7 linked regions of the Homo sapiens genome follow. The protein of the gene in region 1 interacts with the protein of each later gene in a pairwise test. Each region holds a gene or a part of one and is shown on either strand. Other genes may lie near its edges.

What was found.
Region 2: the proteins of WASL (region 1) and NCK2 interact in binary tests that used the Homo sapiens proteins (3 or more experiments, as listed by UniProt).
Region 3: the proteins of WASL (region 1) and ARPC3 interact in binary tests that used the Homo sapiens proteins (3 or more experiments, as listed by UniProt).
Region 4: the proteins of WASL (region 1) and ARHGAP12 interact in binary tests that used the Homo sapiens proteins (3 or more experiments, as listed by UniProt).
Region 5: the proteins of WASL (region 1) and UBASH3A interact in binary tests that used the Homo sapiens proteins (3 or more experiments, as listed by UniProt).
Region 6: the proteins of WASL (region 1) and TNNT3 interact in a two-hybrid assay, tested with the Homo sapiens proteins (one large-scale study listed by BioGRID and IntAct).
Region 7: the proteins of WASL (region 1) and UBASH3B interact in binary tests that used the Homo sapiens proteins (3 or more experiments, as listed by UniProt).

What each region holds. Positions count from the first base shown.
Region 1 is NC_000007.14:123,685,810-123,690,546, reverse strand, and holds part of WASL (actin nucleation-promoting factor WASL), read left to right. Parts: intron 1-1,396; coding exon 1,397-1,505; intron 1,506-4,737. UniProt on the Homo sapiens protein: Regulates actin polymerization by stimulating the actin-nucleating activity of the Arp2/3 complex. Involved in various processes, such as mitosis and cytokinesis, via its role in the regulation of actin polymerization.
Region 2 is NC_000002.12:105,887,328-105,891,994, forward strand, and holds part of NCK2 (cytoplasmic protein NCK2), read left to right. Parts: intron 1-4,667. UniProt on the Homo sapiens protein: Adapter protein which associates with tyrosine-phosphorylated growth factor receptors or their cellular substrates. Maintains low levels of EIF2S1 phosphorylation by promoting its dephosphorylation by PP1.
Region 3 is NC_000012.12:110,433,663-110,437,907, reverse strand, and holds the end of ARPC3 (actin-related protein 2/3 complex subunit 3), read left to right. Parts: intron 1-755; coding exon 756-824; intron 825-1,224; coding exon 1,225-1,351; intron 1,352-1,703; coding exon 1,704-1,798; intron 1,799-2,690; coding exon 2,691-2,753; 3' UTR 2,754-3,085; downstream 3,086-4,245. UniProt on the Homo sapiens protein: Component of the Arp2/3 complex, a multiprotein complex that mediates actin polymerization upon stimulation by nucleation-promoting factor (NPF).
Region 4 is NC_000010.11:31,907,505-31,912,241, forward strand, and holds part of ARHGAP12 (rho GTPase-activating protein 12), read right to left. Parts: intron 3,060-4,737; 5' UTR 3,021-3,059; intron 1,423-3,020; 5' UTR 1,352-1,422; coding exon 668-1,351; intron 1-667. UniProt on the Homo sapiens protein: GTPase activator for the Rho-type GTPases by converting them to an inactive GDP-bound state.
Region 5 is NC_000021.9:42,444,318-42,448,696, reverse strand, and holds the end of UBASH3A (ubiquitin-associated and SH3 domain-containing protein A), read right to left. Parts: intron 4,164-4,379; coding exon 4,054-4,163; coding exon of another isoform or gene 3,864-4,053; intron 1,641-3,863; coding exon 1,503-1,640; 3' UTR 1,013-1,502; downstream 1-1,012. UniProt on the Homo sapiens protein: Interferes with CBL-mediated down-regulation and degradation of receptor-type tyrosine kinases. Promotes accumulation of activated target receptors, such as T-cell receptors, EGFR and PDGFRB, on the cell surface.
Region 6 is NC_000011.10:1,935,912-1,939,648, reverse strand, and holds the end of TNNT3 (troponin T, fast skeletal muscle), read right to left. Parts: intron 3,436-3,737; coding exon of another isoform or gene 3,395-3,435; intron 2,687-3,394; coding exon 2,646-2,686; intron 1,212-2,645; coding exon 1,157-1,211; 3' UTR 947-1,156; downstream 1-946. UniProt on the Homo sapiens protein: Troponin T is the tropomyosin-binding subunit of troponin, the thin filament regulatory complex which confers calcium-sensitivity to striated muscle actomyosin ATPase activity.
Region 7 is NC_000011.10:122,661,743-122,666,479, reverse strand, and holds part of UBASH3B (ubiquitin-associated and SH3 domain-containing protein B), read right to left. Parts: intron 1-4,737. UniProt on the Homo sapiens protein: Interferes with CBL-mediated down-regulation and degradation of receptor-type tyrosine kinases. Promotes accumulation of activated target receptors, such as T-cell receptors and EGFR, on the cell surface.

The sequences.
Region 1 (4,737 bases):
CTTTTGATTGCATTTATTGCAATCATAGGGTGCATAATCAGTGAACTATTGGCATGTTATACATGTAATCCGAGTTCGTTATTTTTTGAAAAAGACCATTTTGTGGTTGAAATTTCTATGGCTATGTTTCTTTAAATTTTTTGAGTAAATCATCAATTTATTCTGTGATGAATATGATTAACATAAAACCATAGACTTACTTTAAAGAGCTAGTAGGAGGTATTGAATACTCACATATATTTTTGAATTCCATGGTTTTAGTACCTCAAATAGTACTTTGTTCAAGTAAGCACTTCAAAAAATGTGTTTGATGAGAGTATGCTCACTTCTGCTTTGTGCTCTCTGCTTTACATTATCACATTGCTTAAAGGTAGTCTAAATGTCCCTACCGCTGTTGTACCTCCTTGAGAGCCTTGTGCAGAAATACAAAGCTCTGAAACTCTCTGTTATCTTTTTTCATTTGTGGTACTTCTATACTGGAAATAGTTAATACATAATGTTTAAAGCCAAAATACTAAGGAATGAATCTATATCTTAGGGGGAACCACTTTGAATTTTTTTAAAAAAGGTGTTTACTCCAGAAAGAACAAGGAGTATTAGAGGAAGAATTGTACAGATCAAAATGGAAAGTTTGTCTAAATAAAATTGTCTTTGGGAAATGATTAAGAATTTCAAAAATATATATTATATATGTATGTATTAAAACATAGGTAATTATTTAATACAGCTATGCTGTTTCATCTTTAATTATAATTTTTTTTTTCATGAATGCACTTTGGCACAGCTGGAAGTACTTCAGTTAGGGATTGTTACTTGCCTAGTGAGGCAGGTACATTTTGAAAGTTGATCAACTCATCTCCTTAAAAAGAAATTATATACTATGAGAAAAGAGGTTCATTTTGAAGGTATAAATGTAACATAAAGGTGTAAAGCTGAATTTTTGTAGGCAAATATAAGTTTCTACAGTTGTTTTTCAATATCTTCAGTGTGCGTCCCACGTAACAACTCTGGAGTCTAAGTATTAACCTCTGTTTATAACATGAAATCCCTTGATAAAAGCTTTAAAGTTGATCATCTAAGTCTGTGTGTGCTGGAATAAACAGAAGTAACCCAGCAAGTATTATTCAGGAGAGGGTTTGTTATCTGAATGTAAACATAGATTTGGAAATGTATTTTTGGCTTATACATTAAGATGGAAAGGAAATATTTTTGAATAATATCTTTAAGGCAGCAGTTTATTTCTTGTTAATTTGATTAATCTTGTCCTGCGCTTGCCAGTTTGATATCTTTTTTGTCTTTTACAATAAGAAGTGATTCTAAGAAAGTAGGACTTTCTGGAGACAAAGATTCTTGGCTAAAGATTTATTACTGAGTTTTGCTAACTTTCTTTTCCAAGGTGGCTGATGGCCAAGAGTCTACACCACCAACACCTGCACCCACTTCAGGAATTGTGGGTGCATTAATGGAAGTGATGCAGAAAAGGAGCAAAGCCATTCATTCTTCAGGTAGAGAGAGAGAGAGAGAGAGAGAGAGAGAGAGACAGAGAGAGTGTGCGTGTGTGTTTAATAAATTTGAATGTTTGACGTTCTGTTATTTTTATGACTGTCTTTGCTAGCTTTCTCTCTGCTAATTGAGTAACTACTGATGTGGGCTCTAGGATGTATTTTAAAAAGTTGTTGCCTGTGTGACTAGTCTCTCTGAGACTTAACAAATGCAACACCACCACAGCCATAGCCATAAATTGAAAGAACAGCTTTGGGAATATTGACAGTTTTGTTTCCTATATCAGGAAATGCTAATAGACTTCCTAGCAAACAACCTCTAAACAAAGCTTGAGATTTTTAGATCTCATTCCTGTGACATTACTGTGACATGAAAAATTCAGGGCTGGGTGCGGTGACTCACACCTGTAATCCCAGCACTTTGGGAGGCCGAGGCGGGTGGATCACCTGAGGTCGGGAGTTCGAGACCAGCCTGGCCTACATGGAGAAACTCCATCTCTACTAAAAATACAAAAAAGTTAGCCGGCGTGGTGGCGCATGCCTGTAATTCCAGCTACTCGGGAGGCTGAGGCAGGAGAATTGCTTGAACCCAGGAGGCAGAGGTTGTGGTGAGCCAAGATCGCACCATTGCACTCCGACATGGGCAACAAGAGCAAAACTTCGTCTCAAAAATAAAATGAATAAATAATAATAATAATAAATCGGGCCATTTACCTCATCTGTAAGGATTAGGGATAAGAATTTCAGTAATTTTTACTGTTTCTAGAGTTTGCTAAAGAATACTAACTTTTTTTAAACCTTTCTTTTTCATTTTCTAAAAGGTTGATTTGAAGAAACCAGTACCTATTCTGAGGTTATTATTAAACATATACATACCACCATATAAATATTCCTTTAAAGAAAGAACAAGAATATGAGTTTTGCTGATTGGAGTAGTTGAGGTTTGCTAAATAGCTTCTCCAACATGATGTGCTAGAATCAGATCTTTCTTCTTAGATTTATTTAATCTCTGTGAGCCTCAGTTTCTTGTTTGTTACATTCAGAGAACTCACAAAACATATAGATGTGAGAATTAAATAGTATGTCACTAACCTGCAGATTGCCTAGCACATAGTAGGTGCTTAATAAATGTTACCTTCCTTTTGTTTCTCTGTAAGGATGTCCATGTCTTAAGATCCTTGAGCAATGTTTGTTTTCCTTAAATAGGCATATTTGTACCTACCCTCCATTACAGAGATAGAGATAAATATTTATTGTGGAATAATAATAAAATTTTAACAAAAAAAAAGTCCCTGCCTTCATCGACATGCATTAGGTCTAATGAGAGAGAGAGACAAGCAATAAACAAAGAAAACTAGAAAAACATACAGTATGTTAAATGGTGACATGAAGTAAGGACAAAAGTCTAACAGAAAAGGGAAATAGGGGGCAGACTGTTGAGAGAGAGGTTCATTTTGAAATGATAAAGGATGATAAGGGACAATAAAGCCTAACTGAGGTGACATTTGAGAAAAGACCAGCAGTTCAGGAAGTGAACCATGTAGAAAACTAGGGAAAGTGTATCCGATGGAAAGAACAGAAAATATAAAGTCTGTGAGGTTGAGAAACAATGAGGAGATCACGGAGCTTGCAAGGGAGGGAGGGAAAGAATAGTAAGGAATGAAATACAAGAAGTAGTAGGAGGCCAGTGGTAAGGCTTTGGAGACCCCTGAAAGTGCACTAGCTTTTATTCTGCATATGATGGGAAGCCATTGGAGGGTTTTTAGCAGAGGTGTAGTAATGATCCAAGCAAGAGGTGATGGAGGCTTGAACCAGGTTTATAGCACCAATGAGAAGTGGTTAAATATTAATTATATTTTGAATGTGGAGATCACTGGTTTTGATGATGGTTTGAAAGTGAAGGTTGAAGAAAAAGAAGAGTGCAAAATGACTCCAAGGTTTTTGACTTGAACAACTGGAAAGGGGAAAGACTTACGAAGAAAAAGTTTGAGAGGGAAGATTAGGAGTTTGATTTTACATATTAAATTTGAGATACCTATTAATTCAACTATAGATGTGGAGTAGGCATTTCGTTATGAGTCTGGAAGTCACAGGAGAGGTCTGAATTGTTAAATTGCATGTCAGTAGGATATACATAGACACCTGGTATTTAAAGTTATGGTTATGTTTATGGTATAGTCTTCTTTAGCATAAAAACAGTGAAAATTACCTAAATTCTTAGCCCTAATCCTCACAGATGAGGTAAACTGCCTGAATTTTTTATGTCATAGTAATGTCATAGGAATGAGATCTAAAAATCTCAAGCTTTGTTTAGAGGTTGTTTGCTAGGAAGAGATAAAGAAAGGTCTTCATTCATTCATAAAGAAATGTAAGGCTTCTGTGAACTACATGATTCTGAAAAAGCATTTATTCTATGCTGGTATCTGTGAGTTCTGCTAAATATTTCCCTACAATAAGTTTTTTTTTAATAGTATGTAATAGTCACGCTAATATAATGAAAATATAGGATGGTTTTTACTTATTTTCAGACCCATTTATTTTAACTGTTAGTATTTCTGTGGTAGTACCTGATGATGAAATTATTAGCTACTTCTTCCTCTTCACCATAGATACTGATAAGTTTCTGTCTTTTGTCAGTCTGTAATGCCAGCATAGTCAGGTGTCTTTGATGCTTTTCATCCAGGTAAATTTTGTGAAGCATGTCTAGCAAAATCTGGTAGCAAATTATTTCCCTTGCTAGAAGAGTAAACAGAAATTAACATGACTCAATTGAACTCCTTTCCAAATAAATTCTGTAACAATTTAGAGCTGACCATGAGACTTAAATAAATAAATAAATAAATAATAAATAATTATCGTTTTAAAAGTAACAACTTAGTTTAGGGCTAAGAGAAGATAATGTTGCTTCTCTTGGGCTTCTGTTAATTTTCAAGTTCTAATACTAGAGCTCCAGTACTTCTTCAAATACTACCTTCACACAATCAATTTTACATGAGAAAAATAGAAGAAAAAGATTGTTCTGTGTTCTGTACATGTAACCCACACGTATGTCACCTAGTCTTACTGGCTTTTTATCATTATCAAGTACAATTACTCAGCCACTGTCCCACTTTATATACTTGGCCTTCATGGGTCCTATATATATATTTATATACATATTTATATATATTTATATATTTATATATAGGTATATGTATTTATATATTTATAGGTGTATATATTTATACATATTTTA
Region 2 (4,667 bases), on another chromosome or scaffold:
AGGGGAAAAACATGTCTTTACCAAAAGAAAAGAATGATACAACTTGTGATAAGAAACCAACAGGGTGACCTCTCTCTGGGGGTAGAAGGAGATGTGTAGATTATTGATGCTTGGAGACTTCAGCGTGGCTGGAGATCAGTCCAGGGTCTGTGTGGAAGGCCTGGTGAATCACACAAAGGGCATTTCTACCCTCATCATTTCATAAAGTCCAAAGTGAAAGATAAGGAGAAGTTTTAAGGTTTAAAGAACCAAAAGTACCTGGAGCAAGGCCCCTCCCTCCCGTTTCCTCATGACTATTGTGCTTAGAAGAAAATCGCATTAATACATAAGCTTTCAGGAATGGAGGAGGAAATAAAGGATATTAAAGTCTGTCCTCGGCATTCATTTTTTTCCTTCTATGAGAAAACAATGATTAAATCTTGAGAGAGGGAGAGGCGTATCTGATCAGGACATCTGTTTTATAAAACTGCAAAGGTGCTTTTCAGCAAGTATTTGAGGCAATGGATCAAGCTGGCAAAGCCATAGAGATGGGATCAAAGAGTGTGCTCTCTACTGTTCTTTTCTAAAAGTACCCACTTATCGCGAGCACAAATTGCAAAGAGATGAGGTGTAAGAATTACCTAAAGGAATGAATAATGGAAGAGGTAGTCAAAATTAGAAATTTTTAAGTCTGCACGTTTGTTGAACACCAGATACTCTGAGCCCGGTGTGGGGATGTGGAGCTAAATAGGGTTCTTGCACTTAGTTGTATTCAAACACAGAATCTAAAGCCTAAACAAAAATAATGATGATAGAGGCCCCGAGAGAGGTTGGTTTTCCGCCAACCTATTAATTGTCCTTAGATTCCACTTGGAAAATGACTTCTGAAAAGAAGGGTCAAATGAATGGGTTGTACTAATTGTTCATTCTCCAGAACCATTGATTCAAAAACTATGAGAATGGAAAAATCATTCCTTATAAGGAGTACTCATAGAAGGACATAACAGGAAGAAGTGGTCTGATGTTTGAAAATTTGAAGAATTTGCCCAGTAGTCAGCACAGAGAAATTACTATATACCAAGTAAGTACAGTGTTTGGAGATGGAAAGTGTAGGAAATGCGGACAGTGGGAGGTAGCACAAAGGTGGCAATTAAAGAGGAGAAATCAAAGGGGAGATGTTTCAAAACCCGGGGACTGAGTCTAGTTAGGTTTTAGTCCAATCATAGAAAATTGTAATGAGTGTCCTGTCCATCTATGATGGCTTAAAAAGATGTCCATAAATTCTTTGGTACTCTTTGCTTCAGAAGGTGGAGCCTGACCCTCTTCCCTTCAGCATGGGCTGCACTGAGCAACTCACTTCTAATGACCAAGATGTGGCAGAAGCGATGGAGGGCAGCTTCCGAGATGGGCATTGTGGCTGCCTCTTTGCTCTCTCTTGGGTCACTTGATCTAGGGTGAGCCAGCTGTCATGTTGAGAGTACATTCAGGCAGCCCTACAGAGCCCCCTAGGGGTTCATGTGAGCAGACTGCCTTGGAAGTAGAGCCTGCATCCCCAGTCTAGCCTTCAGATGACTGCAGCCTCAGCCAGCATCCTGACTGCATGTTTCAAAAATGTGTTAAGATTCTTTGACAAGCTTAAATGTAGAGTACTCTACCATACTATCAGTACTCTAGTACTTGTTGAGGAGCAAGTGTGGCATGGTCCTTTTTCATCCAATTTCTTGAAATCTGTTCTAGAAAGCCAACCGTGGAAGGACTGCAACAGATGAGAATAGGACTGATGGAGTTGCTTTCATGGGAATCATTCCCTGGCTCCCTCTGGAGGCAGAGTTGTTTTGGGTCGGGAGTAACTCCATCTCCATCAGATGCAGGGACTGGTGGCTCACTTTGAAAGGAGGAGACCATACAGCAGTGTCCCAGCTGTCCCTTCAGGGGAAATTCCCTATGAGAGATGTCTGGAGCAGAGCCAGAGTCCTCAGGACAGAATTGGAAAAGTATCCACAGACTGGAGCTCCCTCCATCATGGGCTGCTTTGCCCATAAATGGCATTCCCATCTTTTTCTGGTGACCAAACATTTGTTGGTGGCTCCAGCACTGCCGATGTTTGTTCCAGATTTTCTTTCTTCCAGTTCTCAAACTGCATCAGAGTCCCCTGAAGGGCTTATTAAAACACACGGTGCTGGAGGTTAAAACACAGATGGCTGGGCTCCACCCCAGAATTTCTGCTACAGCAGGGTTGAGGCAGAGCCTGAGAATTTGCATTTCTTTTTTTTTTTTTTTTTTTTTAATTATTTTGAGATAGGGTCTCACTCTGTCATCTAGGCTGGAGTGCAGTGGCCCTGTCATACCTCACTGTTGCCTTGACCTCCCGGGCTCAAGTGATCCTCCCACCCTGGCCTCCCAAGTAGCTGGGACCACAGGTATGCATCACCACACCTGGCTAATTATTTTAAATTTTATGTAGAGATAGGGTCCCACTATGTTGCCCAGGCTGATCTCAAAGTCCTGGCCTCAAGTAATCCTGCCACCATGGCATCCCAAAGGGCAGGGATTACAGGTGTGAGCTTCCATGGCTGGCCCTTGAGAATATGCTTCCTAACCAGTTCTCAGAGGATGCTCATGCTGCTGGTCTTGAGAGCACACTTGGAGAACATCTTAACTAGTTCATCTTCACACTTCACTTAGAGGTGTTCAGTGGTCATATGTAACGGTGTATGTTAGTATACAGATTGTTCTTTTTCAGATTTCCTACAGAAAATCTACTTAGTTTAAATTAAAGAACACTCCCCAACTTTTAGCACTCCTGCTTGGCATAAATTGGTTCTACATCCTTAACTTTTAAAGGTTTCTGCTCAGGAGCCCACGAAATTAAAAATTACCTCTTCTGCTGCGAAAATTTTATTGCTGCAACTCATGCATGCATACAGGCACACACACACCATGATGTTAAATTAAGGAGCTTGAATTAAAAGCAAATTTCCCTTATGTAGAAAGTCATCTGTTGATCATTTGGCTTAATTAAAATTGGGTGTATCTTACATCTACCATGATTCACTCCCATACTGCCTCCACTAAAAATGATGCCACATTATCTCTAAATTGAGCCTGGCTTATAGTAAACTCTATAAGTGAGACTGCCCTTCATCTTTTCCTAAAGATACAACTTCTAGTACAGAATATTAATCATCTATAGGCTGAGGCCTAATCTGAGATTAACCTTCTGGTTTCTTCCTGGAGTTTCATCCAGGAGTATGCCCTGGGCCTCACATGGGGATGAGATGGGGCTTTTCGCCTCAAAGGTTTGTTCTTATTTGGTCTATTTGAGACAGAGGCATGCATAAATACAAACTATACTTACAATTGTTCCTTTCATTCTTTTCTGTTAACAGCTATGGCTGCTGGGTGAGCCCAGCTGCCTTGCACAATTTGAGTCTTCTCAGACACTCATTCCCCTGAGTTGTCATTGGTAGAAATGGAGTGATTCCTTGTTTTGCAAGGGTTGCACACTTCTCATCAAACATTTATTTGGGCTTTTGTGAACTCTGTAATAGACAATGGCCTAGTCCTTTGTTAACTGTCTGGAGGTCCTGCTGGGAGGTCGCAGAGCAGGGCTGAGCTGCTGGACCCTCAGAGCAGGAAGTTTCTGGGCTTTGAGAAAAGCAGAAAACTGGTCTGGGAATTCCAGGAAGAATTTCGGATGTTAGGCTGTGGTCCTGCCACTGGCCAGGCATGTCCGAGGTACCAGCCCTGCCTCGGAGAGCACATGCTCAGCTCCACATTGTCCAGAGGGCTCTCCTGCCCCCACACGCACTTATACATTCACACAGATGAACTCACACGCTACGCATACTCTCACACACTCTCAATACTCACATACTCCCTCTCACATCTGCGCACGCTCACACACTTAGAGCTGCGGTATCTCATGCTCCTCTTTCATGCAACTCTTTTTTTTGTTTGTTTTCTTTTTTTTTTTCATAGAACTTACTGCCCTGTGCAGCCATCTGTACACCTCTATTTATCTGTTCCCCACACCAGATTGTCACAGAGCATATGTCCTGCATGCACACACATGTATCCAGGGCACCGCCTGCCTGGCATGTGTTAGTAACTAATTGTTATTCATTTAATGAATTGATCAAAACTTGATATTTTTGTACAAAGAACATTTATCGTTCAGTATCTTCTTTCCTGCATGCTTTTCAGCAAATGAGATAAAAGACCAATTTTTTTTTTTTTTTTTTTTTTTTTTTTTTTTTTTTGAGATTTTTCGCTCTTGTTGCCCAGACCAGAGTGCAGTGGCGTGATCTCAGCTTACAACTTCCACCTCCCAGGTTCAAGCGATTCTCCTGCCTCAGCCTCCCAAGTAGCTGGGATTACAGGCACACTACCACCATGCCTGGCTAATTTTGTATTTTTTAGCAGAGATGAGGTTTCACCATGTTGGCCAGGCTGGTCTCAAAGTCCTGACCACAGGTGATCCACCTGCCTTGGCCTCCCAAAGTGCTGAGATTACAGGCGTGAGCTACTGCACCTGGCCAATAAAAGACACATTTTAATTAAAATAATGACATGTTTCTAAAATATTCTGAAATAGAAGGCACATCACAGAATTTAAATATTTTTCAATAAAATCTGTAATCAAACCATAGTTCAGCTTCCTCTGGGATATTGTGAACTATGTTTAA
Region 3 (4,245 bases), on another chromosome or scaffold:
GTTCTTTGGGAGCAAGTCAAATGTGAAATAGTTGCTTCCTCCTTTAGAGTAATGACTATTTCTGTTCTCGGCAGAGACCCTGAAGGGAAGGGTTTTTAAAAATTAGCCAACCATATGGAGCAGTTCAGGCTTTCCAGGCAGCTTTGTTACTTCTTCCTATACAGTGAGGGGCTGTTGACACAGATCCTTGGGAACCCTGGGGCAAGGGGAGCCGAGAAAAACAAGAGAGAGCAGCCACTCAGCCGAGCGTGGTGGCTCATGCCTGTAATCCCAGCACTTTGGGAGGCTGAGGTGGACAGATCACTTGAGGTCAGGAGTTCGAGACCAACCTGGCCAACATGGTGAAACCCCGTCTCTACTAAAAATAGAAAAATTAGCCAGGCGTGGTGGCGGGCACCTGTAATCCCAGCTACTCGGGAGGCTGAGGCAGGAGAATTGCTTGAACCTGGGAGGTGGAGGTTGCAGTGAGCTGAGATTGTGCCACTGCACTCCAGCCTGGGCAACAGAGCAAGACTCCGTCTCAAAAAAAAAAAGCAGCTGCACATCTCAGAGTGGGGCTTGTGCCTTCCTCCCAGGGGCAGACGGAAAAGGAGACTGAGGAGACTGTGCATTTGGAGAATGGGAGTTTTGATGTGATAGTGGCTGTCCTACCACTGCATTCAGCAGATAATCAGAAGACAAAGATGGAATGCATACATTGCACATCATTGTTATGTTTTGATAACTGTTTTTAAGTCTTCTTTTTCTCCCTGTAGAATGAAGCTGATAGGACCTTGATATATATAACTCTCTACATTTCTGAATGTCTGAAGAAACTGCAAAAGGTAATTAAACTTGGATGATTGTATATCAGGAAAACAAATTGCTGAGAGGCATTTACCCTCCCAGTCATCTGGGATTTGTTGAGACTTTAAAGACAAGTAGAAAATATTTCCTCTGACTTACAGCATGGACTTAAGAGAAAAATTTGAATTTAGTTACCTGAACTTGTAGTATAATTGACTGACACAAAGATAAAAGTAGTGGTGTTTTAAGGCTTTGAATATATTTTCTCAAGACAGAAATCTTGACAGAGGAATTCCTTTTAAGCCCTTGACTCAAGGGTTCTTAACCTGGGGTCCAAGGATAGAATTCTTCTTTTCCCTGTAAAATATGTGTGTGTGTGTGTGTGTGTGTGTGTGTGTGTGTGTGTGTGTATATATATATATATATTTTTTTTTCCAGTGCAATTCCAAAAGCCAAGGTGAGAAAGAAATGTATACGCTGGGAATCACTAATTTTCCCATTCCTGGAGAGCCTGGTTTTCCACTTAACGCAATTTATGCCAAACCTGCAAACAAACAGGAAGATGGTAAGAACAGGTCTCTATCCTCACTCTGTGACACAAGAAGATTTTCTCCATTTGACTTCCTACCACCCCTCTTTTTCTTGCCTTGATTCATGTACAGATTGAGAGTGAAATCATAGGAAGTACATTATCTTATTAGTCACTCTCACAAACGATTCTTGGCAACAAGGATGACATGCAGAAAATCTTTTGAACAAAAACAAATATAGTTATAAAACTATCTGGACTGTCATTTCTATTTTGTATCCTGTTCAAATGTATAAAAATGTATTACCACAGTGAGCATCCAGAGCTGCAACCAGTACATTTGGGATGTATTTGCAAATACAGTTTTTTTTAAATTGTTCTGTTTTAGAAGTGATGAGAGCCTATTTACAACAGCTAAGGCAAGAGACTGGACTGAGACTTTGTGAGAAAGTTTTCGACCCTCAGAATGATAAACCCAGCAAGGTAAGACCCTCTTCTTGCCTGCTTAATTGGTAAATCACCTTTTATCCCATAGCCACCATTGAACACACTAAGGTCTTCCATTGCAAGAATATTTTTAATTTCTGCATTGCAATGTTGCTTAACTTCCAGTATATGTCTAGTATGTAATATGAGTTCACTGAATCACACTAAATAATGAATTGCAGGCCGGGCGCAGTGGCTCACGCCTGTAATCCCACCACTTTGGGAGGCCGAGGCGAGTGGATCACTTGCGGTCAGGAGTTCGAGACCAGCCTGGCCAACATGGTGAAACCCCCATCTCTACTGAAAATACAAAAAATTAGCCAGGCATGATGGTGTGCACCTGTCATCTCAGCTACTCAGGAGGCTGAGACAAGAGAGTCGCTTGAACCCAGGAAGTGGAGGTTGCAGTGAGCCAAGATCATGCCATTACACTCCAGCCTGAATGACAGAGTGAGACTTTGTCTAAAAAGGGTTTATGGCCAGGCGCGGTGGCTCACGCCTCTAATCCCAGCACTTTGGGAGGCCAAAGCAGGCGGATCATGAGGTCAGGAGATTGAGACCATCCTGGCTAACATGGTGAAACCCCGTCTCTACTAAAAAATACAAAAAATTAGCCAGGCGTGGTGGCAGGCGCCTGTAGTCCCAGCTACTGGGGAGGCTAAGGCAGGAGAATGGCATGAACCCAGGAGGCGGAGCTTGCAGTGAGCCAAGATCACACCACTGCACTCCAGCACTCCAGCCTGGGCGACAGAGCGAGACTCCGTCTCAAAAAAAAAAAAAAAAAGTTTATAAGAGATTCCAGACTAATGTGAAATTTTATTATTAAATAAATGCAAATTCTATTGTAATTTGACCCCGCTGTTCATTCTGTGTTGTTCTCTCTTGTTAGTGGTGGACTTGCTTTGTGAAGAGACAGTTCATGAACAAGAGTCTTTCAGGACCTGGACAGTGAAGGGAGCCCGGGCAGCCACCGTCTCCAGAGCCCTGGGCAGCATTTTCCAGCAAGATGTACACAATCTTTTGCCTTTATTTCGTAAAGTTTTATACAGAAGAGAGAAGAGCATGTCTTTACTTGAAAAACTCTTGATCAAGAATTTGGGTGGGAGAAAAGAAAGTGGGTTATCAAGGGTGATTTGAAATTTTCTGCAGCATTAAAGCTGGCGCTTAATAAGAATAAGTAATAATAAAGAAATTTCTAACATTCCATGTCAGAAAAACTTTATTGCCAGTCTTTGACATTCACTTACAATTTGTTTTGAGATAAAATTCACATTCCATAATGCCCTTTTAAAGTGTACAATTCACTTTTTTTAGTATATACATGAAGTTTTACAACCATCCCCAGTAAATCCAGAGCATTTTCATCACCCCGGTGTAGTGAACCTGCACTCTTTAGCAGCCACCCCACCCCACATTCCTCCCCAAGCCCCCTGTCCCTCCCACCCCTCCTCCCAGTATTAATCTACTTTCTGTCTCTATGGATTTGCTTATTCTGGATAATTCATGTAAATTGAATTTTTTATACAACATGTGGCCTTTTATGTCTAGCTTCTTTGACTTAATGTTTTCTAATTCATCCATGTTAGAGCATATATCAGTGCTTTCTTTTCTCTTTTTCTTTTTTTTCTCTCTGTGTATATGTATGAAATAAAATATACTAATATGGCCAGGCGCAGTGGATCACGCCTGTAATCCCAGCACTTTGGGAGGCCCAGGCGGGCAGATCACCTGAGGTCGGGAGTTTGAGACTAGCCTGACTAACACGGAGAAACCTGGTCTCTACTAAAAATACAAAAACCAGCCGGGCCGGGTGCGATGGCTCACGCCTGTAATCCCAGCAATTTGGGAGGCCCAGGCAGGCGGCTCACCTGAGGTCAGGAGTTTGAGACCAGCCTGACCAATATGATGAAACAATGTCTCTACTAAAAATACAAAAATTAGCCGGGCATGGTGGCACGCGCCCGTAATCCCAGCTATTCGGGAGGCTGACACAGAAGAATCGCTTGAACCTGAGAGGCAGAGGTTGCAGTGAGCCGAGATCGCACCATTGCACTCCAGCTTGGGCAACAAGAGCGAAACTCCATCTCAAAAAAAAAAAAAAAAAAAAAAAAAACTCAGCTGGGCGTGGTGGCGCATGCCTGTAATCCCAGCTACTCGGGAGGCTGAGGCAGGAGAATCGCTTAAACCTGGGAGGCAGAGGTTACGGTGAGCCGAAGGTTGCGGTAGGCTGAGATCGCGCCATTACACTCCAGCCTGGGCAACGAGTGAAACTTCGTCTCAAAAAAAAAAAACGGCCAGACGCGGTAGCTCACGCCTGTAATCCCAACACTTTGGGAGGCCAAGGCGGGCGGATCATAAGGTCAGGAGAATCGAGACCATCCTGGCTAACACAGTGAAACCTCCGTCTCTACTAAAAAAATACAAAAAATTAGCCAGGCGTGGTG
Region 4 (4,737 bases), on another chromosome or scaffold:
ACACCTGTAGTACCAGCTACTGGGGAAGCTGAGGTGAGAAGATCACTTGAGCCCAGGAGGTGAAGGCTGCAGTGAGCCATGACTGTTCCACTGTATTATAGCCTAGGCAACAGAGCAAGACCTTGTCTTAAAAAAAAAAAAAAAAAAGAACCAGGAACACAGAAAAATTTTTCCAGACTAATACTCAGTGAAATCAAGTGTGGATACTTAGACACTTAAGACAAAAGTTAGCAGTTAATATTCCAAGGACATCTTTCCTCAAATAACCATTATTACCTGAAGACTTCTTGGAACCAAGTCAAAATGGGTACAGGTAAAAAAGAGTAAAAATTTTTTCTATTAGAAGAAATATCATCACTGAGTAAATTAAGTAAATCCCCTCTGCCTTATACATAATCAATAGAGAAAAGGGAAAAAAAGTTTCCTCACTTAAAGTAGATCTAGTCCTGTCATGGTATAAGAATAATTATGAAAACCAAAGTGACCCTTTATGAACTCCACAAGTTATTTCACATATTTTCTAGATCTCTAAATCAGGATAGAACCCATGTACTCTGAAAATACAAAGCAAAACAAGTCTTAACTCTTACAAATATTTCAATTAAAACTATAACTAATATTTTCACTAGGGTGGTACAGTGTTTCCTCATTCTATTTTTAATCTTACCCTTATCTGTTCAGTGGAGCTGCTGCTAAGTTCATCACCAGATTCAGAATCTTGATGTATTCTTTCAGAGCCTTCTCCTGCGGAATCACAAGATTGTTCCTGGGAGAAGCTAGTTTTCTCTACATCCAAGAACTCTGGACCGGGAAAATGACCAAATGAGCGTGTCCTATTCTGGCTGGAAACTTTAGGAGAATGTGAGTCATTGTTAAACTTTCCGTTATTATGGGTCAGGTCCAGGCTTAGGTTGACAGTCTGACCTTGATTATAACTGGGTCCAAAATTCTGATTGGCATCACGAATAAGACCTGTTCCTTGAACAGATGACGATGGCTTTCCGAAACTTGAAAGCTCAGGCAATTTGTTCACATTTTCTGTTGATCTCTGAAGATGCAAACTCTGCATTATTTTCGTGGAGTTATTTGGCAGACCAGCTACCTGCTTAACAGGTGGCATGAGAGCTTTGCGCGTGACCTCCTTCACATACTGGGCTGGCACATAAAACGCTTTGGAGTTTTCATCTGGCTTGACTTGCCACCAGTCATCATTGGTCTTTTTCACCAAGATGTACCTCTCCCCTTGTTTTATCACAATCTTTCTGTCCTTTGCTTCATATTCATAATCATATTCCACCTCAATATACACTTGTCCTGGAATAATCTTCCCACTTCTGTCAGCCATTTTCATTCAATAATATTCACCTCTCAAAAAGGATGTTATACCACATTATGGCTTTATGGCTTGTTGGATGAATATAGCTGTTTTATTTAAATGGAGAAAGAGAATGAAGAAAAAAGTTAATGCAATCTGGATTTCGTATTTACTCACAAGCATCATATAGTATAGGCCATTTAAAGAACATTACTTCAAATCTCAAACCCCAAAAAGCAAACATGTGTCTACTATCATATGCACTGCCACATTAAAAACACTTTCATTCTAATTGTAATCTACATTTTTCAGTCACTTATGACCAAAACAAAAGCCGATAACTGGAACAGTAAATATACACTAACCAGGTAGACACAAGAGTTGAGAAGAACTTTCCTTCCTTTCATTACTCCCTCAAACCTCCTTCACCTTCTTAGAAAGGCTCACTAATAACTAATATGCATTTACTTTCATTTCTATAACAATTCCAAAATATTTTAGTACCTCCTAGAACACGGCATTACGGGTTTAAATGATCACCTCCTAGAACACGGCATTACGGGTTTAAATGATCACTGCATCCTCACATCACTACAGCATGAGCCAGTTCCCACCTGTTTGGGGATGAATTGTGTTCCCCCAAAAGACAGTTCAAGTCCTAACCCCAGGATCTGTGAATGTGACTTTATTTGTAAAGAGGGTCTTTGCAGATGTAATCAAGTTAAGACAAGGTCATATTTGATTAGGGTGGGCCCCAAAATCCAATGACTGGTGCCTTTATAAGTAGAGGGAGATTAAGGGCACAGTGGCTTACACCTATATTCCCAACACTTTGGGAGGCTGAGGCAGGTGGATTGCTTGAGCCCAGGAATTTGAGAGCAGCCTGACCAACATGGCAAAACCCTGCCTCTACAAGAATTACAAAAATTAGCTGGGTGTGGTGGCATGCACCTGTAGTCCCAGCTACTTGGGAAGCTGAGGTGGAAGGATCTCTTGAGCCCAGGAGGCTGAAGTTGTGGTGGACCAAGATCACACCACTGCACTCCAACCTGGGTGACAGAGTGAGACTTTGTCTCAAAATAAAAAGAAAAAAAGGAGGAGATTTACAGAGAGGAAAGCTACAGAGGGAGAAGACCATCTGAAGAGAGAGGCAGAAACTGGAGTGGAGTGAAGCAGCTAAAAGCCAAGGAACACCAAGGACTGCTGGCAACCACCAGAAGTCAGGCAGGGGTGAGGAAGGAAGGGTTCTCCCCTGGAGCCTTCCGAGGGAGCACGGCCCTGCCAAAACTGATTTTGGACTTCTAGCCTCCAGACCAGTGAGAGAATAAAAATAACTGTCTGCTGTTTAAGCACTCCAGTTTGTAGTATTTGTCACAGCAGCCCTAGGAAACTAATACATTCAACCCAATGCTCAAGGATCCTAAGGCAAACTGAGATTTACCAAAAATGTGCAAACCCAAGGTTCCATAACAACCTACTAATTTTCTATAGCAAACAAGTACTGAGCATATTATTCTACACTACAGGTGTAGTAACCATCATTCTCCTGAGGATAACAATCTTCTCTATGACAGATAACGCCTATAAGGCCAGGTGGTAAGTCAATTAGTCACTGATACAATTTTGTTAACTGAAATTTACTTTCTAGACAAACTACTTGACTAACAAATTTAATACAACACATTTTCAAAAAATAAAAAATTACCTTAGAACAAGGAGATCTACACCAGTATCACATTTAAACCTGTAAAAAAATAAATAAGTTCATTAACTCAAACCAAGATCGCTGAAGACTAAGAATATAATGTTGCTTACATTTTTAAAAGCAAAACTTTTTTTATAATAGCTATAAGGAATCAGGAAAGTTTTATACATCAAGATTGTGGTCAGCACCGCCCTCCAAATACATGCAAACACAACCACCAACAGCCACTGAGGCTGGCTTTACCACTGCCCTCTCCCACTGTACTTCCACACTGTCTCAAACTTCATTTTGTCCCTTATTTTTAATTCTGACAAGCATCTTTCTAAACTTCTGATTATACAACAAACATCTCTTCTATTATAAAACTGTGAGGATGAAATAACTGTTTTTCAAGTTTATGTATTGAATGGGTAAAGAGAATAAAAACGTATGTTAAAAGTTATTAGGTGTCCTAACACATTTGTCCCCTGATTACTTCCTAATTATTTTATTTATTTTTTTATCTTATTTATTTATTTTTTGAGACAGAGTCTCTGTTGCCCAGGCTGGAGTACAGTGGCACGATCTTGGCTCACTGCAGGCTCTGCCTCCCAGGTTGAAGCAATTCTCCTGCCTCAGCCTTCCAAGTAGCTGGGATTACAGGCATGAGCCACCATGCCCAGCTAATTTTTGCATTTTTATTAGAGATGGGGTTTTGCCATGTTGGCCAGGCTGGTCTCGAACTCCTGACCTCAGGTGATCCGCCTGCCTCAGCCTCCCAAAGTGAGGGGATTATAGGCATGAGCCACCGCACCTGGCTATTTACTTTCGAGACACAGTCTCACTCTGTCACGGAGGCTGGAGTGCAGCTGTACAATTTGGGTCACTGCAACCTCCACCTCCTGGGCTCAAGCAATTTTCCCACTTCAGCCTCCCGAGTAGCGGGAACTGCAGTTGCACACCACCACACTCTGCTAATTTTTGTATTTTTTTAGAGATGAGGTTCCACCATGTTGCCCAGGTTGGTCTTAAACTCCTGGGCTCATGTGATCCACCCACCTCTGCCTCTCAAAGTGCTGGGGCTGCAGGCGCGACCACACCCAGCCTACTTACTAATCTTAAATAGGATAAAATACCTTAACAATGGAAAGATGTGGTGGCATAAGCTTAACCAAATGATCAAACTTAAGAGCACTAATGCGACCTGACAAGATATGCCTCCTATGTGATGCAATAAAACATACACAATGTCACCTACGTTATATTCTTGTCAAAAGCATGTTTCACCTTAAGCAATTATTAGAAAACAATCAAACAAATCCAGAATGTGAGACATTCTATTAGACAACAGACCTGAACTCTTCAAAAAAGTACTGTCAAGGGAGGGGGATTCTTCTAGACTAAAAAAGACTATTAATACATAATAACCAAATCTACTTGGTGGTCCAATAAATACCTCAAACTTATCATAACCAAAATGTATTCCCATCTCTACCCTACCCGAGCTCTGCCAAATATGCTCACCCCATGGTCTCTTCCATCACAGTAAACAGGAATTCTGACCTTTCAGACGCTCAGTCGTTACTTTCATGCATTACCAGAACGCTAGTCACTATGTGCTTTGATCATTTACCTATACAAATTTTTCACAACTTTTCAAAATTTTACCCTGAAATGCTTATCCTTAGGTGATTTTTTTTCCAGGAAAGTAATAAAATAACTTAAGAAATATCTTTGA
Region 5 (4,379 bases), on another chromosome or scaffold:
CGTGGCCCTTCTTTTGGGGCCCCATTAAATCGGGGGAGCCTACTTCTCCCACTGGCAAAGTCCTCTTCTCTCCTCTACGTGATCAGAAACAAGAATAGGAGAAGCCAAAAAAGGCCTGCAAGGGGAGTGTCTCAAATCCCTATGTCCGAGGCCCTGTACGGGCAGCTCCGCTGTGCTTGGAAGGATTGGGGTATGTTATGGCAGGCTACAGGATAACCCCCAAAGATGTTCATGTCCTAATCCCCGGGACCTGGGAATATGCAACTTTATGTGGCAAAAGGGACTTTGCATGTGTGGTTAAGGCTCTTGAGATGAGAATTGATCCTGGGTTATTGGGTGGGCCCAGTGTCAACACAAGGGCCCTTGTAGGAGGGAGGCAGGAGAGTCAGAAGCAGAAGGCGATGTGGCTGTGAAGGCAGAGACTGAGAGAGCTTGGAGGCTGCTACGCCGCTGTACTTGAGGAGGGAGGATGCAGGTGGCCTCTAAAAGTGAGAAAAGGCAAGGATCCTCCCCTGGAGGCTCCAGAAGAAACATAGCCTGCTGAGAAAATGCCAACCTCCAGAACCGTAGGAGAGTCAGCGTGTGTGTGTGTGCATGTGAGCGTGTGTGTGCCTGTGTGTGCATGTGTGTTTGTGTGTGTGCATTGCATGTGTATGCCTTTGTGTGCATGTGTGCAAGTGTGTGCATGTGTTTGTGTGCTCATGTGTGCATGTATGCATGCACGCGTTTGTATGTGTATGTGTGTTTGCATGCTTGTGTACCTGCGTGTGTGTGCATGTGCGTGTGCATGTGTGTGCGCATGTGTATGTGCACGTGTTTGTGTGTGTGCATGCTCGTGTGTGCCTGTCTTTGTATGCATATGTGCATGTGTGTATGTGCCTGTGTGTGTGTGTGTGTGTGTGTGTGTGTAAAGTTTGTGTTCTTTCCATGACCCCCAGGTTTGTGGTCATTGGTTACAGCAACCACAGAGACATAGTAACATGAATGTTGACAGCACGGAGCAGCAACCCAGTTTTGACCTGGTCGATGGTTTTCTGGGACCATTTTATTGACTATTACACCTGTTTTAGCCCATGTGGATATGGCTAAAGAGTGATGGACCCAGAAAAAGAAAAAACGATTGGGAATTTAATGATTAGACCATGGAAAATGAAGTGGTTAGATCCTTCGTGTGTGGTGAGTCTTTAATTCCTGGAAGTTAGAGTCCCGGGCAGTTGTGTCCCCAGCTGCAGACACTCGGTGTACATGCTGCAGGGCGGCATCCTCACCCAGCCACCTGCCCTGTGCTCCCCGCAGCTGGGCTGGTGGACGATGGGTCCACAGATGGGAGTTACAAAGGCGAAAGCCGGAGGGAAATATTCCGGGATATAAAAGTGCGTCTCGTGCTTCTACAAATCACATTGGGTGAGACTAAGACGCCTCTGGAAACAGCAGCATCTCCCAGCCTCTGCACATGGTTTCTGCCTCTCCACTCTGAGGTTATGACAACATCACCGTGGCTCTCAGTTGCCTGAGATCCAGTTCCTCCAGTTAAATGCTGCGTTCGCCCCGTGGGTCAGGGTCTTCACCGGTGGGTTCACCAACTCCCATTTTCCTTCCTCTTTATTTTCTTCACAGAAGCACATGCCCAGGGAAGGGATCTGGAACAGAGTTTTAAATCACTTGTTAATATCTTATAGCAAGTCCATCAATTTCAGACTAGCTCCAAAGCCAACTGTCAGGCACACCTCTACTTTGGAGGGTCTGCGACTGCCCAGGCTGGCACTGCCACCATTGAATGGCACCAACATCTGCCCTGGCGGTGCCCCGTGGGGGATGTCCCCTAGCCAGGGGACACTGGGTAATTCCGGAGACATTTCTGATTGTCACAACTGAGGATGGAGGTGCTGCCGACACCTAGCAGGTAGAGGTCCTACAAGGTGGTACATCCTACAATGAGTAGAACAGCCCCCACCACAAAGGTCTGCAGGCTGAGGTGGAGATTGCCATCCACCACTTAAGGAGTGACTCATATTCTCATATTCAGCATCACAAAAAGACACAGACATTGAGTTTTCAGACCCAAAAGAAAAGCACAAAGTGAACCTTTAGACCTCCATCCCTTCATCTGTGAAATGGATGTGTGAGAACAGAGCTTTGTGGTGAAGCCTTTTTTGTTTTTGTCTTTTCTTTTCTTTCTTTCCTTCCTCTTTCTAATGTCTAGAAATTCCTCAGGCAGATGAAATTTACAAAAATGCCAACTGGCAGGGGGGTCTGAGTGAGGCTGGTGTTGACCCTAGGGTGATTCTTTCCTCACGCTTGCAGAGGCTGTGGGCGAGGGGCGGTGATGGGCTGGTCGGGGAGGGTCCTGAGTGCTCCCTTTCCAGCTGCCCTGATTTGGGGGCCCATCATTTGGTAGAGCCCCCCCTTTGTATTTTCTGATATGCATGAGCAAGTCCAGCTTATTTTGGGGTAGGGGCAGGGTGAACGCCACGTGACCAGCATAAGAAAGTCCAGGAGTTTGGAAGTTCAAGATTGGCATCTATGGAAGGGGGTGAAGGGTCCAAGGAGTGGGTGGAGCTTTGGCCACAAAGGCTCATGGGTTTGAGGAACTGTCAGCAGCTGGTGTGTGCAGTGCTGCCACCCTTGGTTACGTGGGCCCCCAGGAGCGCCTGGGGCTGGAGGCTTGGTATGTGTATATGGGACTGTGGGAAGCGGGGCAGGGACAGGAGGAATGCATCAGAGCGCATGTGTGGGAGACCCATTTGCAGAAGCAAGAGCAACATTTTGGGAGCAGGTGGTGCCGGGGCTGCCCCGGACAGTCCCCAGGAAAATCCATGCAGACCTCTACCAGTGTGGCCCAGGGGGGTTGAGCTGCCCTATTTGGACAATGCTCACCTGGTGGCTCAAGAATCCAGGGCGCTCGGAAATGTCTGGATCATAATTGGGACACACCACCCTGGAGACATTTTGCAGGGGAAGCATGTTTCTACTCAGGTGCAGAGGAAAATGGAGCAAGAAAGGGAGATTCGGGTGTCTGATGCCTAATTGCTGAGTGACAATGACCCACGGCAGGCATGCTCTTCATGTGCGTAACCTCTCATCTGGCTGCTGAGGCAGGCGTAGCTAGAGAGCTAAGCCCTCCTGCAGGCACCTGGCTGGTGTCACTGGGCTGGGCCCGGGAGTTGGGCTCCTCTGAAGCCCCTGACCTCTTGGGGGGACTCAGCAACCCCCACTGCTGCCCACAACTTATGGCAAACAAGCTGTGGCCAGTGTGGTCCTGTGGCAGTGCTATGTGAAGAAACCAGGTCAGGGCCTCAAGCACCTCCGATGACAGGCATTGTCTATGCTGCACGTGCTGCCTGGGCACTGACCAGTGGACTGATGAATTTCATAAAAAGGTCAGGACTGTGGTGAGTCCAGCCTTGAGTAGATCTGCAGGGAAGGGCTGGGACTGGGGTGGGATCTGCACTCCTGAGTTTGCCTGCCTCAATTCACCCATGGACTGGACATCACCCTCTGGCTTTGCTGAGTGATAATCAAGGTTGTCCAAGATGTCACGTGTGCGTTATCCTCTGTTTGTCATTCACAAGGCCCTTGCCAGAGCCTGAGCACTCTGGCAGCTACAACCAGCTCAAGCTTCTTCCATGCTGGGTGACTCCAAGGGCAAGAGGATCAAGGGGCTCCTTTTCATCCATCAGCCGCCCTGCCCCAGGTCCCCAGAAGAGGCCAGAATCGAGTCCCACAGTCGTTTCTTCCCTCCTCATCTAAACTGCTTACTCCTTCCTGGACCGTCTGTTTTTCTACGAGAGCTGCAAGGGGTCATGGCATGAGCTGACTGGTAAAAAGTTGGCAAGTGGCCAATGATGATGAGGTTGACTGACCTATCCACCAGCCCCAGCCCGAAGTCACCCTTCGCATAAGAGCCGGTGGGCACAGTCTCCGGGGGCACGTGGATCCTGGTGGCCCTGGGTCAGCCGGACACTTGTTTTCATTCCGAGAAGTGGATGAGATAAACCTGTGTCTTCGGGATGCTTGATTTTGTGGCCCAAAGAGCCAAGAGTGGGCGCGTACCTTTCTCACGAGTTGGGCAAAATCCCCACATTCCCGGGGCGGCAGCCCGAGCAGTGGCCGCGTGCAGGAGTCCAGAGTGGAGCCGTGACTCACAATTAGGATGACACCCGCTGTGGAAAACAAGAACACCTCCAGGTCAAAGCAGCCCCAGAGAGCACCTTTTATTAGACTGGGGTCCCCAAAGTGGTGGGGGGCAGAGCTATCTCAGAGTGCCCCGAAGCCTGGCGAGACCCCCGGGCTAGAAGTAGTGTGGCTGGTAACCGCTCAGTGATGCCTGCGTCCCACCCTCGCTCATGGATTCCTCTGCACGCAGCAGCTGCCCACCA
Region 6 (3,737 bases), on another chromosome or scaffold:
GGGTGATGTTATGTGTGTGTGTGTTGCAGGGTCTGCACATGTGTGTGATGCTATCTGGAGGTTCTGTTTTGTCCTCTGGGTCCTGGCCTTGTCCCCAACCCCATCGCAGACTGAGGGGGCCGTGCTGCTCCCCCCCATCCCCCGCTCCTTGGCCCCCATCCCCGGCAGCAGAACTCCCGGATGTGGCCGCCCGCCCGCCCCTGAGTCTTTCTGGGGGCCGTTCTGGACTCCAAACCTTCCTCTGTGAATATTTTGCTGTACAAGTCTCTGCGTCTTGATCCAATTTCTATGATTTATACTTTCCATAATTTTCTCTGGTCAGGATTTTCAGATTTACGACCCGCGTGCGCTCTGCTGTCCTGCGTTCCGGAGAAGGCTGTCTGTGTCTTCCCTGCCTGCTGTCTGCTGGGAGTGCACTCTCCTGCACTGTTTTTCCCCGACCAGGGCCTGGGGTGCACCCCTCACGCAGGAGCCGCTCCCGCCTGCCTCTGCCTTTCTGGGGGGTGGCAAAGTCTCTTTCGCAGCCCTGCCCTCCTCCCTCACCCCCTCCCGAGGCAAAGTTTCTCTGCCCCCAGTGGATTGACAGCTGGCGCAGATGGCCAGGGTCTGGGGCTGGGGGTGAGGCCTGCAGATCACCCCCTTCTGCACAAAGACCCTATGGGAGTGGAGAGTGGAGGGGCCCTATAGGCTTGCGCGGGGATGGAGCCCACGTTTTAGAGGGAAAAGCTGTGGGCAGCGTCTGATGGGCATCCAGGCACCGCCCTGGCCGTAGCAGCAGGTGGCACGTGCTGGCCAGTGCCCTCCTGAGCTGGCCCTGCGCGTACTGGCCAGTGCCCTCCTGAGCTGGCCCCGCGGATGACCAGGACGCTGTGCCATTGGCTAGCCCCTACCTGCCTCCTCTCGTGTCCTCCGGGGCCCCCATGCAGAAGCAAGTACAGACTGTGAAGGGGGTTCTGCAGCTTTATTCACAGGCCCCAGGGGATGAAGGCAGCAAGGACACAGACGCGGGGGACGCCCCGGGATGGCCTCTCCACCCCCAGGACTGTCAGGGAGCCCCTGACAGGATTGTGGGGGCTGGAGGATGTGGAGTCCCACGAGCGGCCCTGGTGTGCAAGAGGGCGGAGGGTCTCTGCCTCGAGGGGCCTTTCTGGCCTCTCTACTTCCAGCGCCCGCCGACTTTGCCCTTGGCTGGGGTCCCAGCCTTCTTGCTGCTGCAAATGGGAAGCAAGTGATCCTTCAGGGTCAGGGCCTCTGGCCATGCCCCTCCTGGTCCCCCACCCTGGGCGGACTCTCAGCCCGACCCCAGGCTGCTCTCAGGGCACAGGCCCGGCCCAAGCTTGCGGCCCACACCCAGCTTCAGTCCGGGCAGTGCCCACTCACCTGTGCCTGGCGGGCCTAGGTCGTTAGTGTGGTTAGGGGGCTGGCACGTGAGCCCGGGGCACCCTCCCTCTGTCCTCCTTTCTTTGCCTGAGGTACCACTGCAGACAGACCCCTGAGCTGGGGAAGACTGTCTTAGCAGATAATGATATAATCCTAGACGCTTGGCCTTGAAAGAGCTCATGCCCCTCCAGACGGTGGCCTCTGAGGGGCCCAGGAGCCTGCCCCATTTGTCTGAGGTCTTCATGTGGCCACGAGCCGGGAGGAGCTGGGTGCGGGTGAGGGGTGAAGGCGGGTGGAGGACAGGAGTGCTTCGGCCCGCGAGGCCGGCCCCATTCAGACGCGGCTGCTCAGCAGGACACCTGGCTGGCAAAGGCCGTGCCCTCACACACGTTCCTGGGCACTCTCGGCACATGCACACATGCACACACGCAGGCACATGCACACCACGCCGACTGCCCACCCTCAGAGGGGTCTGCAATGACCCCTGACGGCACAACAGGGAGGCCGTGAGGTCACGTGCACCACGGAGGAGCCCGCCCTGGGCGCCGCAGGGAAGCCAAGGCGACAGGAGGAGGGAGAAGAATCCCAGAAAACATCGAAACTCCAAGTAGCCCCCAAACACTGCGATCCTTGGGGAAATGGCACTGGCTGTGCAGCTGGGCTCCATGACAGGATCCCCAGCGTGGCATCGCCGGGGGCACCCTGGGTGCAGCCCCATGCAGGTGGTCGAGTAGCTGTGTCAAGGGATCCCACAGCCCCCAGGGACACGATTTTATGGATGAGGTTTCACCATCCTGAGGAGTCCATGATTTTGCCCAGCGTCACAGAGGGGCTGGTGATGAAGCCCTGACTGCTTAATTCCCTGTCCTAGGTCCCCTTGGAGGGTGGGACACTGGCGGGATACCCTGGGGCCCAGGTTGGCCACACCAAAGGCCCCCCGAGTAGCCCCTTCTAGGGGTCCCCTGGCTGCCCTCTCCCTGCAGCCAGTGCCAGACTCGGGGCGAGGGCGTGACAGGCAAGCCCCATTGGGATCCCTCCTCCTGACTCTGCCACCCCCCAGGGCTCCCCTGCGTGCAGGAGAGGGAGGAGGCTCCGGGTCCCTGGCCACAGGCCTGCGCATGCTGGCCTGGGTGGCCTGGCCGGGTTAGTCTCGTTACTGCCCTGCCGAGGCCAGCCACCACCGGCCCTTGTTAGGGACTGGCTACAGCGGCTGGCCCCAAGGGCCCCTGTGCCCAGTGCGGAGCGAGGACGGCAGGGCTACTCACTGCTTCTGGGCCTGGTCAATGCGGCTCCTGAGCGTGGTGATCTGTGAACAACATGAGTGACTCACTGCGACGACCCGAGGGCCAGGCCTGCGTGTACTGGGTGAAGGCCTGTCTCCACCGCAGGGTGGGCTGGGCTGCGCGACCCAGGGCTGCTGGGCCCCCATGAGGGCTCCTCGGCTCCCTTACTGTCTCCTGGCTCCTTGTGCAGGGGGACACCGTCCCGTGGCCCCTGGGCTCATGCCTGGACTTACTCTCGCCAGCCTGTACTGGCCTGGACTGCCACACACAGCAGCCCGTAGCTGGCCACTTACCTTCAGCCTGCGGCAGGATGTGGGGCGGGGGGTACGGAGCACGGATGGGGCTGGGGAGGGGTTGCAGGTGAGGCCTGCGGACCCCTCCTTCTCAGCTCCAGCTCCCTTCAGCCGCTGAGCTCAGAGCTCCGAACGGCCCTGCTGCTCCTGGGCCAGCCGCTCCCGCCCTCGTGCCTGTGCCCAGGGGCACTCTGTGGCCGCTGCTGGCTTGAGGCGGAGCTCCTGGGAAGGTGGGGGCCCTTCCTCGCTTGCCAACAGGGCAGCGGCCACTGGGAAGCCCCCGGCTGCAGGCACGAGGGGAGAGCGGGGGCAGGAGGAAGGCTCCAGGCCCCCTGCCGCCAGCATCCTGAGCGATCCAGGTTTTTGCCATGCGAGAGGTTCACCTCACCGTGCAACGCACACCCACGGGCCTGGCCCAGGGCGGACCCGGCTACTTACAACTTGGCCAGCATCTGCACTCTGGCCCGGACATTCATGATCTAGAAAGACCAAGATGGTTACAAGGCTGGATGGGCGGCTGGGGCATCGAGGCCCGGCTGTGGGCTAGCTTGGCCTGGTGATGGCCCTCCAGGCTCTGGAGCCCCTGGGGGCCCGCTGTGGCCGCATCTATCCAAAGCCAGTGGGTCCCTGATTCAGCTCTGGGAACACAGCATGGGAAGGACCTGGGTCCTGTGCCGTGAAGCCCGTCTCAGGGCCAGCCCCTCTGGGAGAGCCCCAAGGGTGAGGTCAGGGCTGTCCCTCATGCCTGGACCCCCTGGGGACAGCTCTGGGAGGGAGTGTA
Region 7 (4,737 bases), on another chromosome or scaffold:
GCCATTGCACTCCAGCCTGGGTGACAGGGCGAGACTCCGTCTCAAAACGAAAAACAAAACAAAAAACAAAAGAAAAAAAAAACAAAAACGAAACTGCAGATGCCATGGTTGAGAACTCCAGCGACCCTGCATCGTTCCACATGTCTGTGTCTAAATAGACTGTACACAAAAGCAGCCATGAGGCAGATTTCTTCCTAAGGTAAAGGAATAAACACTTAGGGAGCGAACGCTCTCTGTAAATGTTTTTGAAAGGCGCACCATCAACGTGGAAGCAGGATTCTAAACAATCCTGCTACCTGAATCACCAAGAAGGTTCACCCAACAAAACCTGAAAGAAATCGGGAGCATGCAGCTGCCTCTGGCCATCTGTGCAGTCGGCTTCCCCCTGGCATTTTCCAGACTGCCATGAGAGGCTACAGCGGTGGTTCTTTCAGCTTCCCACTCTGCACGAGAACAGCCTTGGTCCTGGTGGAGTTCACTGCCACAGTTGCTTTATGTACAAGAATGTTTATGCTTCCACAGAGGCCGGGAGCACAACGGGAAGTGTCACCCAAACAGCTGGTGACTCCACAGAAGGGAAGATGTCCCTTTAATTTAAAAGGTGCCCCTGAGCAATCTATTTGCCTCAGGTGCTGGGCTCAAGGCACTACCTTCCTCTTATTTAACCAGCACTTTGGTTGTATTTTGCAAGAAAACAAATTGTTTGTTTTTGTTTTGTACCAATTTGAGAATTATACTATTGCATACTAGTAAACGGCTCCCCACCACTGTAATTGCCTCATATCTTTCTTCCTTTCCGTTTATTTACTCTCTAAAATATCAAGTCCTGAAGAGTTTTCTTTAAAGGGAGAGGAGAAGAATTTGACCATAAAGCACTGTGAAAAACAAAACAAAAACAGGAACAGAAAAGCCAAATGCTCTGGAACAGAGAAGCACACCCATGAAGCAGTGAGAGCATCCTCGTGCTGTCCAAAAACACTGGTCCAGGCTGGGCGCAGGGGCTCATGCCTGTAATCCCAGCACTTGTGGGAGGCTGAGGCGAACGGATCACTTGAGCCCAGGAGTTTGAGACAAGCCTGGGCAATGTAGTGAGACCCCCATCTCTACAAAAATAAAAATAAAATAAATTTTAAAATTATCCAGGTGTGGTGGGGCACACCTGTAGTTCTCACTGTTCAGAAGGCTGAGGCAGGAGGATTACTGGAGCCCAAGTGTTCGAGGCTGCAATGAGCTAGGATCGTGTTATTGCACTGTAGCCTGGGAGACAGAGTGAAACACACACGAGCCGGGCGCAGTGGCTCACACCTGTAATCCCAGCAGGCCTCAAAAAGGCAGGCCTAGGTCAGGAGATGGAGACCATCCTGGCTAACACGGTGAAACCCCGTCTCTACTAAAAATACAAAAAAATTAGCTGGTATTGGCGGGCGCCTGTAGTCCCAGCTACTTGGGAGGCTGAGGCAGGAGAATGAAGTGAACCCGGGGGGCGGAGCTTGCAGTGAGCTGAGATTGCGCCACCGCACTCCAGCCTGGGCGACAGAGCGAGACTCCGTCTCAAAAAAAAGGCAGGCCTGCCCTCCGAGGGTCACTGTGGAGAACGTGCAGCCAGCTCAAAAGAGCAGTTGACTTCAGAGTGCCAGATGGGAAAAACCTGACATTTACCTTTTCCTCCGGAGAACTGCACAGAATTTAGCAGGGTGCTGCATGCACAGTAAGAGCTCAGACAGTTTCTGGATGTTCATCTAGGACACTTCACCATGGGCCTCACCGTCATAGATAGTAAGTGGCAAAGAGCATGACTGCAAAGTCACCAGGAAAACAGGGATGTGAGCAAGATGAAACAAGAAAAGGGATCACCTATCACATACCGAGGGCCCCGGGCAGAGGGTCCAGAGGACTGCGATCACTGCCACATCTACCCACCCATCCTCCAGGGAAAAGAGAAAAACCACAGATTCTCCATAAGCCTTTGGGCAAATAGAAAGTGGCCCCTGGGAGAATCCATCCATGAAAATGACAAAAGTGTTCAGTTCAATGAGGATCATAGTCATCTCATTCTTCTGGCAATGGCTCTGCATTCTGCTTGGCTGAGTCTGTCACCCTGCAGAGAGGATCCATTCTTGAGTGTGGTTTTTTCTCCCCACTCTCTCTCTTAGGCTTGAGTCTGATTCCATTTGAAAGTAATCAGAAGACAACCATATGGTACCCCTTCCAGTCCCCAGCCCCTGCCATTTATTATAGTCAGCAGCTTGGGTGGTGCTCTCTCTGCCCTGGGTCTGCTTTTTCTCAGGCCCCGCACCCCTCTGGGCACTCTAGAGAGAGAAGCACAGAGAGCAGAATGCAGTTATCAGGGAGAAAGCATCCACTGGCCTCTGCCCTATCTTACAGCCTTATACCCAAAGCTCAGTGAGGAACAGAGAACCATAAAAGTGGAAGGCGACCAAGGAACCAAACCACAGAGGGAGCCATGTGGAGTAACATCACCACTTGAGTAGCACTAATACCGACCTCATTTCTGAGGGTGTGCCCAATGCCAGGCGCTCTCCAGCTGTTTGCGTGGTTTGGCACCCTTCTCTCACAAAGGTCCTTCAAGACAAGTGCTGTTATTGTCTGCATTGTACAGACAGGAAAATTGAGGCTTAGCATGTTCAGCAACTTGCCCAAGGTCAGTCCCTCAGCTGGTAAGAGGCAGAGCTGGAATTCAAAGCCAGGCTGCCACAAGTTCAGACTTCTGTCTATCAGGGCAGGATGGATGGGGCAGATAATGATGGGGTCTCTTCAGCTTCTGGATGGCCAAGAAAGGAGATACCCTTACACAGGCTTATGCCGGCTGGGATTGGGGAGGCAGTGATAGTACCACCACATCATCATCAGCTGGAGCAAAGCTGGCGGGAGACACAGGATTCCCTAGGTTGGCTGCCTCTCTGAAAAGCAACGCCTTTAGCTCTGCGAATGACTGTCCACTCCCTGAAAGGGAGCTGGACTTTGAGGCAGCTGAGGGTGGGGAGCAGGTGGTGATCAAAGCCACAGGATAGAACAGTGAGGCAGGATACTCTTCAATCTCTGTAGTACTTAATCTTCCAAACCTCAGTTTCCTCATTAAATTATCAATGTCTGAGACTTAATAGTGATTATGTATGTGACTCTGCTTTGTAAGCTCGAACATGGTCTAAAAACTTAAGGTATTATTAGAAATTCTGGCGTAAGGCCAGGCGCGGTGGCTTATGCCTGTAATCCCAGCACTTTGGGAGACCAAAGCAGGCGGATTGCCTGAGCTCAGGAATTCGAGACTAGCCTGGGCAACATGGTGAAATCATGTCTCTATTAAAATACAAAAAATTAGCTGGGCATGGCGGCATGTGCCTGTAGTCCCAGTAACTCAGGAGGCTGAGGCAGGAGAATTGCTTGAACACGGGAGGCGGAGGTTGCAGTGAGCCGGGATTGTGCCACTGCACTCCAGCCTGGGAAACAGAGCGAGACTCCATCTCAAAAAAAAAAAAAAAAAAAAAAGACATTAGCGCGTAAGAGGGAATTTTCATAGAAGCTGTGTGCAAGGGGTTATAATTACCCTACTAGCACATCCAAATACCTGAAGGTCTACTCAGCAATTAAAAGAGATAAACTATTGATACATGCAGGATGAGTCTAAAAAATATGCTGAAGGAAAGAAGCCAAGTACAAGGGTATGCACTGTATGACCTACATGCAAATCTAGGAAATGCAAACTAATGTACAGTGAAAGAAAGCAACTGGGCTGGGCGTGGTGTCTCATGCCTGTAATCCCAGCACTTTGGGAGGCCGAGGCGGGCGGATCACCTGAGGTCAGGAGTTCGAGACCAGCCTGACCAACATGGAGAAACCCTGTCTCAACTAAAAATACAAAATTAGCCAGGCGTGATGGTGCATGCCTGTAATCCCAGCTACTTGGGAGGCTGAGGCAGGAGAATCACTTGAACCTGGGAGGCGGAGGTTGCATGCAGTGAGCTGAGATCGCAGCATTGCACTCCTGCCTGGGCAACAAGAGTGAAACTGTCTCAAAAAAAAAAAAAAGAAAAGAAAAGAAAAAGCGACTGGTGGCTGCTCAGGGTTGGGGGTTGAGAGAGGACTAACCACAAAGGGGTACAAACGAAACTTTTAGGGGCAGTGAACGTACTGTGTCTTGTAGCAGGTAATCACACAGGTACAGTTGTCAAAATGTATCAATCTTTAAATAGGGTTAGCTGATTGTACATGAGTTATAACTCAAAAAAGTTTTTTTAAAAAAAGCACATCGGCTGGCCGGGCAGGGTGGCTCCCACCTGTAATCCCAGCACTTTGGGAGGCCAAGGCGGGATGATCACTTGAGGTCAGGAGTTCGAGACCAGCCTGACCAACATGATAAAACTCTGTCCCTACTAAAAATACAAAATTAGCTGGGCATGATGGCACATACCTGTAGTCCTAGCTACTTGGGAGGCTAAGGCAGGAGAATCACTTGACACCTAGGAGGCAGAGGTTGCAGTGAGCTGAGATCACGCCATTGCACTCCAGCTTGGGCAACAAGAACGAAACTCTGTCTCAAAAAAAAAAAAAAAAAGAAAAAAAGCATATCAAGGTATTTTTTTTTTTGTTTTTTTTTTTTTTGGAACCAGGACCTCGTGTAGCCTGGAAAGTTCAGGAGACTTGCAGTTTAGCCTGAGGCTCTTATGGCAATGCAGTCCCTGCATACCAACTGTGTGACTCTAGACACGTCCTGAACTC